2 separate regions of the Homo sapiens genome follow, and region 1 is linked to region 2. A link means that fine-mapping ties the variant in region 2 to the expression of a gene that starts in the linked region. Tissue or cell type: monocytes after interferon gamma. Region 2 holds a variant in brackets; the other region holds the start of a gene. All regions are shown on one strand. Distances are between the middles of the regions.

Region 1 (5,000 bases), 200 kb after region 2:
GTTCGGACCTCGGGCTTCAAGTCCTGACTCATCACTAACGGGTTCTAGAGCTCTGGGCCCTTCGATCTTCATCTTGAAAATGACAGCCTGAAAGGACTTTTTACGGCCCCCTTCAGCTTTAAGCTGGTCCTGACCTAATCACATGTTTCAAGTTCTAACTGAAAATTACGAGAAGGAAATTAGGAAAGATGTATCAAAGTCCATGTTTATCCTGGATTAACTTTGTCACCATTGTGCTGCTGTGGAGGCAAACCTGTTGCATCACATGGAATACCCTATTTCTGGCTGTGCATTAGAAATACAAGAGGCAGCCGACTGGCTTTTTATATTTTCATTTTTTAAAAAAGTAAACAATAGTATCCCTCGATGATGGGAAGTTCTCAGGTTTCACCTTTATAGTCTGAAAGTACACACAGAATGCCACCTGGCAGACAAGGGCCACACAGCTGAACCCGGGGTATGCTGGCTAGCTTTACCACGCGTGAAGACTCACTTTAAAGCCACGTCCCCAATCCTTACCAGGGGGCTGATCAGTGCCGTCGCTGTTACTGGTGGGGCGATTAACCGTGTAGCGGCCAGAGAATGAGGTTTGCGTATTACCTGCCCATGTATTTATACCCACCTCGTGTGGCTTGTGGTCACCAGAGCAAGAGCATGCAAATTAAAAGCAACGAGATTTGACCTTAGATCTTACTGGACACATCTACTACTATATTGGAAACAGGAAAAGAAAGAGCTTTTGACACAGCACCTGGTGGAAGGGGCAAACCTCCATCTCCCCATACATTGCATTGTTGCAGTCTTCAGAGTTTCAAAGGCTTGCCGTTTCTCCCTGAAAAACACGGCCGGTCGGGAGGGATTTCTGGCGCGGCCCACTCACCTCTTTGATCTTTGCCCTTTTCTCGCGGATGGCGGCGTCGGCGGGCTCCCGGCTCTCCACCCCGATTGGGGGCACGAAGTCCACCGGGGGCAGGCCTCTGAACGGCGCCTTGTCACGCAGCTGGTCCTGGGCCACCTTCTTCTTCTCCAGTAGGATGTCTCTTTGGATCTCCTCGGGCAGCTTCTGCAGGGTCTCCTTGGCTTCCCTGAGAGCCCGCTCGTGGTTTTCGCGGATCCTGGCCAAGTTGTCCTCCAGGGCGGCCTCCGGGTCCCCGGGTGCCCCCTCCTCGCGGCGCCGGGCTCGCCCCTCGGCCGCGTCCTCGGCGCGCGCCCCGGGCCCGGGCTTGTGGTCGGCGGCCGGCTGCAAGGCGGGGCTGGAGTGGAACAGGACCCCGCTGAGCAGCTTGGAGGAGTCTGGCAGGAAGAAGATCGCCCCGAAGCAGAGCGTGATGAAGGCGCTGAATACCAGCAGCAGCACGAACTTCTCCGTCAGGCGGAGGGCGGCGGGGCCCGACCCCTTCCTGCCACCGCCGCCGCCGAGCCCCCCGCCCAGGACGCCGCCCGCGGGGCTGCTGAAGAGCGGCAACAGGCCCCCCACGGGCATCGCTCCCGCTGTCCAGTGGTCCGGCGCCGCGCCGCTCAGCAGCCAAACTTCGCCGCCGCTGGGAGTCCGCGGCTGCGGGGCTGGGTCCTGCGTAGCCAGGCCGCCCGACCCCCTCGGCTGGGCTGCGGATCCTCCCTGGGGGAACAACTCCGCGCCGGGTCTTCTCCCCGGGGCGGCTCCTCGGGCACACAGGCACGCGCGACAGACCGCTGGCTGCAGCCCCTGCGGGGAGAGAAACAGTAAAACGTAGTAATTACGGCGATGATAAAGTTTCCAGCGGGTCTCCGCCCTCCGACTCCTGGCGAGCCTCCAGGACCGCTCCCCTTAAGCAGAGTCCTGTCCAGTCCGGGCACCGCCCTCGCAGCCCACTCTCTGGACTTGGGGTGAAGTTATCAGGTCCCGTGGGTAGGGGAGGGGTGTCCCGCGCAGGAAGGGGTCAGGGCAGCGCGCGAGCACCTCGGGGAGGGGCAGCGCACCTCTGGGCAGGAGGGGCGCAGCGTGGGCGGGAGACTCGTCAACTTCGCCCGCTCCCCATCTCCGCGCTGAGACTGCTGCCTCTTTCCTAGGCTGGGCTGAGCGCGCTGTCCCACGGTCCCGCAGCCCCGGCGCGGCTCAGGTGGGCGAGCGCGCCGACCTGCGGGCGAATGGCAGCGAGTAGAGCAGCACGGTACACTCCGCCGCGGCCCCGCGAGCACTAATCTCACTGCCGGTCTTGGGGCGGTGGAAAGCGAGGGAGGCGACGCGGCCGGAGAGTGACGGCGCGGCCGGGCCAATCACGCGCCGCCCAGGGTCCCGCGGGGGCGGGGCCGAGGCGAGGAGGGGGATGCGCGGGGCGGGGAGTTTACGGGAAGCGCAGCCTCGGCGGGGCCCGGCCGGCGGCGGGGAGGTCGCGGGGCCGGGAGGCGCGAGGTAGGCGGGAGCCGCGGTGAGGAGGACGGTCGAACCCGTGGCTGAGGCCCAGCGCCGAGAAGCGGCAGGCAGAGTTCGGGGTCGGGGAGTTTATCCTGCGCTGGCCTCGGCAGGGGTCCCCGGGGTGGTTGATCCTCGACTGGCCCGGGAGGCGCCTGGGTCCGCGCGGGACCTCTCTGCCTCCTCCTCCGACCCGTGCGGGGCGGTCGGGGGCGCTCCCGAGGGGGTCCCGGGAAAGGCGGGGTCTGGCAGGGGGTCCTGGGCGCTGGGTCGTTCAGAAGCACGGCTTTACTCCAGTTACCCTCTTTTTATCCAAGGCCGGGGTTCCCCGGGTGCCTGGTAGCAGTGAAACCCCAAGTCCCTCGGTTAGGGGAGCCGTGACCCTGGGAGCTTTTGAGCTCTCTGGTATAACATCCTTTTACATCCTAAGAGACACAGTTCTGTGCTTGCTTAGGACTTTTTTCGTATGCGCCCTTTCTTCCCCCAAAAAACAAAAAACCGAAAAAACTTGTATGTCTCTCCCGCCCACCCGTACTTTCACTATTCATTTACCTCATAGAAGTTGGTCAAATTTTCCATTCGAAGACGAGTTTTATGCTGCGGTAGCTTCAAGCAATAAGTCGAACACTGTGTTGAAATTAAGTCTTGGATCCGACTACTTCCAGCGAAGTGAGGAGTTGGTCCAATAGAAATTATTTTCCAAAATGTGTTGTAATTCTCCTGTTGCTCCACAAATAAGGGGTTATCAGAGAGGAAAACGTTGACTGACTTCGCATTTCTGAAAGCTGGTTTGTAGTCGCCTTATTTCATCCTTACCCTTCTCTGGAAATGTGACATTAGTTCTGTTTGTGCTTAAGACAAAGGAAACAGCTGGCACCTTTCGGGAAGGTGGCTCCAGTACAGTTGTTTCCAGGTGTTAAGCTGTATGAGAAAGTAGAAAAGTAATCAGAAATCCTTACTAGTTTTCATTTAATCATTTAATTATTAATTTTAACCATCATTATTTGTCGTCTACTTGTTTTGTGTAAAATGAGTAATACACTCAAAGTTCTTGTTAATAGGAAATTATTGTTTGATAAAGCTGGCTTTATGGCTTGGTTATTTTGATACCTGCTATGAAATTCTATGTCCAGAAGAGTGCAGCATATCCAAGCAGGGTAATAAGTTCAGAAGGACTGAAAAAGAAAACAAAGATGATTTTTCTTTAATGATGGAAAGGCAATTTTTATTTCAAACGATTATGCATTTGTAGGTTGTGCATAGGCTGAAAGGTTTGAATCACTGTGAAATAATGTTTCTAACAACATCCTTAAAACTGAGTTACCTCTTGAATGGATAGATAAATAGGAACTGGGTTAACTACCCCAAACGCTAATCTCTTTATGATCATCCTTTTTTGGAATGATTTATTATTTTAAAAATTATGTTGTAAGAATGGAATTATAGCCCCGGAAATATTTAGAAGCTTTATTTCAAATTAATGTTATTAAGTATTCCAGCAAAACAATAAATTCCACTTTTAAGTATATGTTAAAATGGTGATAAATAAAAGTTATAACTTAATTCTATTTCTGACACTTTAATTTTGATACCAAATCAGTTTGGGCATTTAACTTCTGTAGTGGAAATATTAAAAATTTAGTACGTGGGTTTAAGGATTTTTTCCCCTAAAAACTTTAAATTTATCTATGTTGTTTCTACATCTTTTAAAGTAACTATTCTTTTTAAGTTCATCATGAAGCTTATTTTAAGATTTTTTTCTTATTTTCCGTATTTCTTAAATGACAGGGTTATACTTGCAGCCTGGCTTTGATAATATGTTAAACAAGAAGTTAACATGGGTGGTTGATTATAGGTACATATTAAAGGGTGTCTGTGTACATTAGGTGGGATAAGAACTATATAGGAACACCAATATTTGGGCCAGAGCAAATTTGAAAAATTCACAAAGAAGGTATCTGAAGAGGCATAGCAATCGAATTATGCATCCTCTTTAAAATAATCACATGAAGCCCTGTGTGCTCATGGTAAGGGAGGAGTAGAAAATAGTCAACAAGTAAAATTGTGCATTTTGTAGAAGCAAAATCGGACACTTTCCTCTGATTTCAGTACTACAAAGCACTTGACATTCTACCATTGAAAAAAGTACTTTGTACCCTGAGATAAAAATAAAGGTGATTGGTTCTTGTCTTTTAAGTAATGAAACCTTGACTTTGTCCCCTAAGTCAAGACTCCCTAGCCACATCTACCTGAAGGTAATGTCACCATCTTTATGAATGCAATGATAGTGCTGAAATTGCTGTTTCTCATTATGGATGGTCTAATGTAAACCTAAGAACCTTAGTAATTTTGTGGGATTTTTAAAAAAATACTTGCTATGTTTTTTTATTTGGCCAGCCAGTCCTTTTGAAGTATAACTCTCTTGTAATTTTTGCAGGTTTGCTTGCAAACTTAATTCTTACATTTTCCTTTTTCAATACTTAATGTTTTTGTGTATTTCTTTGATAATTTGTAAATTTTTGTGTTTCAAGATTATATCTTTGAATCAAGTAATTTTTTAAAAACCTGATCATCAGTGATACCACAAAACACTACAAAGAAATCCCCA
Region 2 (5,210 bases):
CAGACAACACCCGTGATTACATTGCGAGGTGTTTTGGCAGATGTCAGATCCATGGCTAACACAAGACAAACCAGCAGTACCGAGTGTGGGGACGTGGATTCCTGATTTGCTGTTCACGCATCTCTGGGGAGGGGAAGTTCACCTCATGAAAGGCACATGATTCATAGCAGGGCTCCTTGGTGGCTGCTTTTTTTTTTTAACACTTGTTCTGCAGCAGCACAAAGGAAACAGTTTTATTCTTTAATTACTTGATATGAACTGTCTCACTGATGACAACTGTGCAGAAGTCTTGCAGAACCTATCTGGCCTGTAACTTGAGTTTGGATCTTGGCATCCTAACTGTCTGTAAGCCATCAGAATCTCTAAAACCACCTACACAGCAGAGAAGCCTGTACAGCTCCTGACTCATAGAAGGGTTCAATAATAAGTATTCGGTGTTAGAATAAATGAGCTGTGGGCCAGGTGCGGTGGCTCACGCCTGTAATCCCAGCACTTTGGGAGGCTGAGGCGGGTGGATTGCCTGAGCTCAGGAGTTGGAGACCAGCCTGGGCCACGTGGGGAAACCCCATCTCTACTAAAATCCAAAAAAAAAAAAAAAAAAAAAAAAAAAAAAAAGATTAGCTGGGTGTGGTGGCGCATGCCTGTAATCCCAGCTACTGAGGAGGCTGAGGCAGGAGAATTGCTGGAACCCAGAAGGCAAATGTTGCAGTGAGCTGAGATAGTGCCACTGCACTCCAGCTTGTGCAACAAGAGTGAGACTCCATCTCCAAAAAAAAAAAAAAAAAAAAGCTGCAAAAATAAATACATATTTTACTAATACTTGATTCTGGGACATAAAGATCATTAGGACAGCTTTATAGGAAAATATGCTTTTAAAGTTTGAGGTAGGAAGCCTTGGTGGTCTTTTTTTTCTGGAGAAATTAAAATTTCAAGCATTTCCTTCCTCTCATACATGCTGTGTACAAACCATCCCTAGAAATGAACTGTCTGGAGTATTTTATTTCTTAATTAATCCAGTTTTGCTATTTGGTGTAAACAGGATGATGTTCAGGCTGAATGAAAGAACAGGAAAGTTTAGGGGATACAATTCAAGGAGGAGTTTCAACTCCCTCCACATCTGCTGCTCTATTTTGCTTTAAATTAGATTTTAAAATTAATTTAATTTTTCATTTGAAACTGCTGCGCTCTCCACCATCTCTCTTTCTTTTCTTCCAGTAACTGGTCCTCCTCTCTGTGGCCCTGGTACTTCCCAGAGCAAACACTGCATCATCTGACAGTTCTTTTTCCATCATTTTTTTTTTCATTACTTAGCCAGACTGGTAATTTATTAGTAAGAAGAAGATGGTATCAGCTGACAGGACTAGGCTTATGGGCATATGAGAAAGACAAAGATCTCTCTCGCCAATTATAGAAATTCCAAGTTGTGATCCACTTCTTTCTAGCAAGCACCACCCTCTTTTAACATGAAAAGACTCAAAACACAACAGTAGATAATTTGACACGTCACCTTAACTTCTGCATCTGGAAAACTGAGACACAACATGGGATACCTATTTCATGGAGCTATTGTTGGAAATCATATTTTCAAGTATTTATTAATTCTCAGCTTCCCACCAAAGTTTTGATCTTCTGACCACAGACATCATACAAGAAAAGAATATAAGATAAAATAAAGGAATCAGGAACAACGAAATTACTCATAATAGTAGAGAGTCTAAAAAGTCAAAACTAAGGAAAAATATGTTCAGATGTTGGAGAGGGGTGGGCCACATAGTTTTGGTAAATAAGCTTTAAATATGACTCTGAGATCCTTGAAAGTTCAATGTTGTCACAGTGATGTCTGTGGTCAGCAGATCAAAACTTTGGTGGAAAGCTGAGAATTAATAAATACATGAAAATATGATTTTCTGTTTTGTGGTTTTTCATGATCAGAGAGAAGTTTAAGTCTTTTTTTTTCTTTCTTTTTTTGGAGTTGGAGTTTCACTCTTGTTGACCAGGCTGGAGTGCAATGGCGCAATCTCGGTTCACTGCAAACTCCACCTCCCGGGTTCAAGTGATTCTCCTGCCTCAGCCTCCCGAATAGCTGGGATTACAGGCATGCACCACCAC[G/A]CCCAGCTAATTTTTGTATTTTTAGTAGAGACGGGGTTTCAACATGTTGGTCAGGCTGGTCTTGAACTCCTGACCTCAGGTGATTTACCCACCTCAGTTTCCCAAAGTGCTGGGATTACAGGTGTGAGCCACTGCACCTGGCCAAGAAGTGTAGGTCTTCTAAGAGATGATGTGTGGCACTTGAATGTCCTTAGCCCCACCAGCACTTAGGTACAATGAGGTGACATGTTCATTAAAAACAGTTTCTCCTGACTTTTGTCCCCTGCTTGTTGATCATAGACTCTTCTCATTCCTTTACTGCTCTTCTCCATCTCCTTGCATCTCTCTATTTCTTGCAGCCACAATACAAACAAACAGTGACAATAACAGCAGGCACAAAACAAGAACAATTTCCCACAGACATCAATATGTGCAAACAGACCTGAGCAGGGAATGGTCACCAGTCTCTCGTGAATTACATGAAACCAGACTCAAGATTCTATTTAGGCTCTCTGGGACCCTAACCCTATAAGACTCTCCTGTGCAAAGTGATACACAAGTGTAGGATTTTATCAGTGTGTCACTGAAGACGTTTAAAAGCCATTTAGGAGGTGGAAAGGAAAGGTGGAGACTGAAGACAAACGCTGGCTCTTTCCTCAACTTTCTTTGCCTTGTCTCTAGGCCTTTTTGTCATTGTTGCTGTTAAACCCCGATTTCCTTAGTATTCTTAAGAAATGGTGGTGGCCGATTCTTCTGCTTAGTGGTGGGGTGGGTATGAACAGGGGGAATTCAGATCTTTTTGGTTTTTAATTTAAAGTGGTATCTAAGTTACCTATTTTGAACACAGTTGAAACCCCTTGGGTGGAGGGGATAATGAATTAGGGAATTAATAGAAGTCAAAAGAAAGAAACCAGGAGAAGTCTCCCTGTATTCTAGCTGAGGACTAGGCTGCTGACCAACAGCCCCTGTCAGGCTCTCTTCCTTTTTCGCTTTGGAGATCTTTTTAGGTTACACCCTAATATACCCTTAGCAGAGTATTAGCTCTGATGCTGGGCAGCATCACTTTTTATTAACTTGTCTGTCTCTCCTTCTGGACTGTGACATTACTTGAGGGGAGAGTTTTGTCTTTTATCTCAGTATCACCATTTCCTAGCAGATTCTTGGCTCCAAGAGGGAAGAGAATTTATTTTATTATTTCCTATACCTCTTACTCAGTCTCCAGTAAATATTTATTGCACGGATAAATAAGTTACCTGGCAAATTGTAGGTACTTAATAAATATTTGTTCAATTATTGAATTGTACATGGAAATTAAATCATATTTTCAATCAGTCAGGAAGTTACCTATTTGGAGAAACATCTAATGTATCCTATGTGAAGTGACTTTCTTCTCCACTTAAAATTCCTAGTTTTCTTTTTAGTTTTTCCAGATTATGCAAATAATACATGTTACAGAAAATCAGGAAATCACAGAAGAAAATAATAATGATGCAGAATCCTTTCATGTCAAATTAAAAACTTATATTGCATATATAATTTTAAATCCTGCTTTTTACATAATCATGACTATTTTGTTACATCATTAACTTTTTTGGCTTAACATCCTGTTTAGTGGCTATACAACATTCTGACTTATCAATTTGCCTTAATTTTAGCTATTTCTCTTGTTACTTACACTGTAGTTTGGTTTTAATTTTTCACTATTATAAAAGACATTTAGCAATGAAAAGTTTGAATATAAATTCCTGCTTGCATTTCTGACTATGTGCTTAGAATAGATTTGAAAAACTCTTCTTTTTCTCCTAAGATGTTCAGGGCAGTGTATTTGAGTAAAGACTGGCATTTTCTGCCTTTCATTAGTGACACTGGGTAAAGGTGAACATGGTTACTAGCTGTTAGTTTGCCGATTGTCCTTTCTTGAAAGATAGCGGCCCAATACTTTTGAATACTGTAGCCTTGTGACCAGCTCCTGAACTGTATCTTTAACACAGCCAGGCTTATAATCCAACCCTCTATCTTCCTCACCCTCTGACCCCAAACCTGGGTGCTCTGGACATTCCCATGACAGCCAAAGAAGGATTTTGAAAAAGCTGAGATTGATGGAGCCCATTCAGGCGTGCACTCTTTAGGTGAAAGGGATAAAAGGTAAATGCATTTTTATATAGCTTTCAGTCATCCTGAACACCTATTGCCCTAACTGAACTGACCCCCTGAGTTTATGCCCCTGGTAACCCTCTGAAGAGTACTCTGGGCTCTAATACAAACTCAAGGAGATGCTGATTCTTTTTTTTTTTCTTTTTTGTGACAAAGTCTCGCTCTGTCCCCCAGGCTGAAGTGCAGTGATGTGATCTCGGCTCACTGCAACCTCCGCCTCCTGGGTTCAAGCAATTCTCCTGCCTCAGCCTCTTAAGTAGCTGGGGTTACAGGCATGCGCCACAACACCTGGCTAAGTTTTGTATTTTTAGTGGAGACGGGGTTTCACCATGTTGGCTAGGCTGGTCTCAAACTCTTGACCTCAGGCGATCTGCTTGCCTCAGCCTCCCAAACTGCTGGGATTACAGGTGTGAGCCACCGCACCCAACCAAGGACACGCTGATTCTGTAAAGACAGTGTGGGGCAGCAGATCATCCTTTCTTCTTGCTGCCTAAAATAGCCCATTAGAAGAGGAGATGGGAGACCAGGTGACATGGCTCACCAGCACTTTGGGAGGCTGAGATGGGAGGATCCCTTAGGCTAGGAGTTTGAGGACCTTGTAAAAAAAGAAAAATAAGAGGAGATAGGTATACTTTAGTCCAATATGTTGTATAAGCAATGCCAGAGCATGAGGAACAGCATATCTTTATATTTATTTAGAGACAGTCCATTCTCATCTAAAAACCTAAGTGGCTATTGATTTTAACTGAACCAAGTAGAAATTGCCACAGGGTGAAAAATCCAGAACTGGTTATAGACACCAGCTGTGCACCAGGAAGACATCTGTGTAAATCCTTCCTGCCACTGGGTTATGGTCTTCAGCAGCAAGTGGGATAGAGGCTGAGTGACTTGTATGGTAAGACACAGCTGATGGTACAGGATGGAGCACAAGAAGGTCACATGGCTCAGAAGAGTGTCAAGAGAGTCAG

Alleles and levels. Alleles are on the strand shown, and positions count from the first base shown. SD is a standard deviation of normalised expression in the study named.
As copies of A replace G in region 2, the expression in monocytes after interferon gamma of the gene that starts at base 2,179 in region 1 goes up (small effect, 0.39 SD a copy in Fairfax 2014).

The links. PIP is the estimated chance that this variant, and not a neighbour inherited with it, causes the effect.
Region 1: MAN1A1 starts here. The variant in region 2 is fine-mapped to the expression of MAN1A1 in monocytes after interferon gamma (Fairfax 2014, PIP 0.95).

The regions. Positions count from the first base shown.
Region 1 is chr6:119,347,583-119,352,582 of GRCh38, forward strand. It overlaps MAN1A1 (mannosidase alpha class 1A member 1), which reads right to left and starts at 2,179. Exons shown (of 13, transcript NM_005907.4): 1 at 1,960-2,179; 2 at 881-1,705. The coding sequence starts at 1,483. RefSeq lists an enhancer at 650-999 and silencers at 1,210-1,329, 1,390-1,589, 2,100-2,739.
Region 2 is chr6:119,151,077-119,156,286 of GRCh38, forward strand. No RefSeq gene overlaps it. Among named protein-coding and RNA genes, the nearest start is that of FAM184A, 75 kb to the left of the region's middle. The variant G/A (reference allele first, on the strand shown) is at 2,110.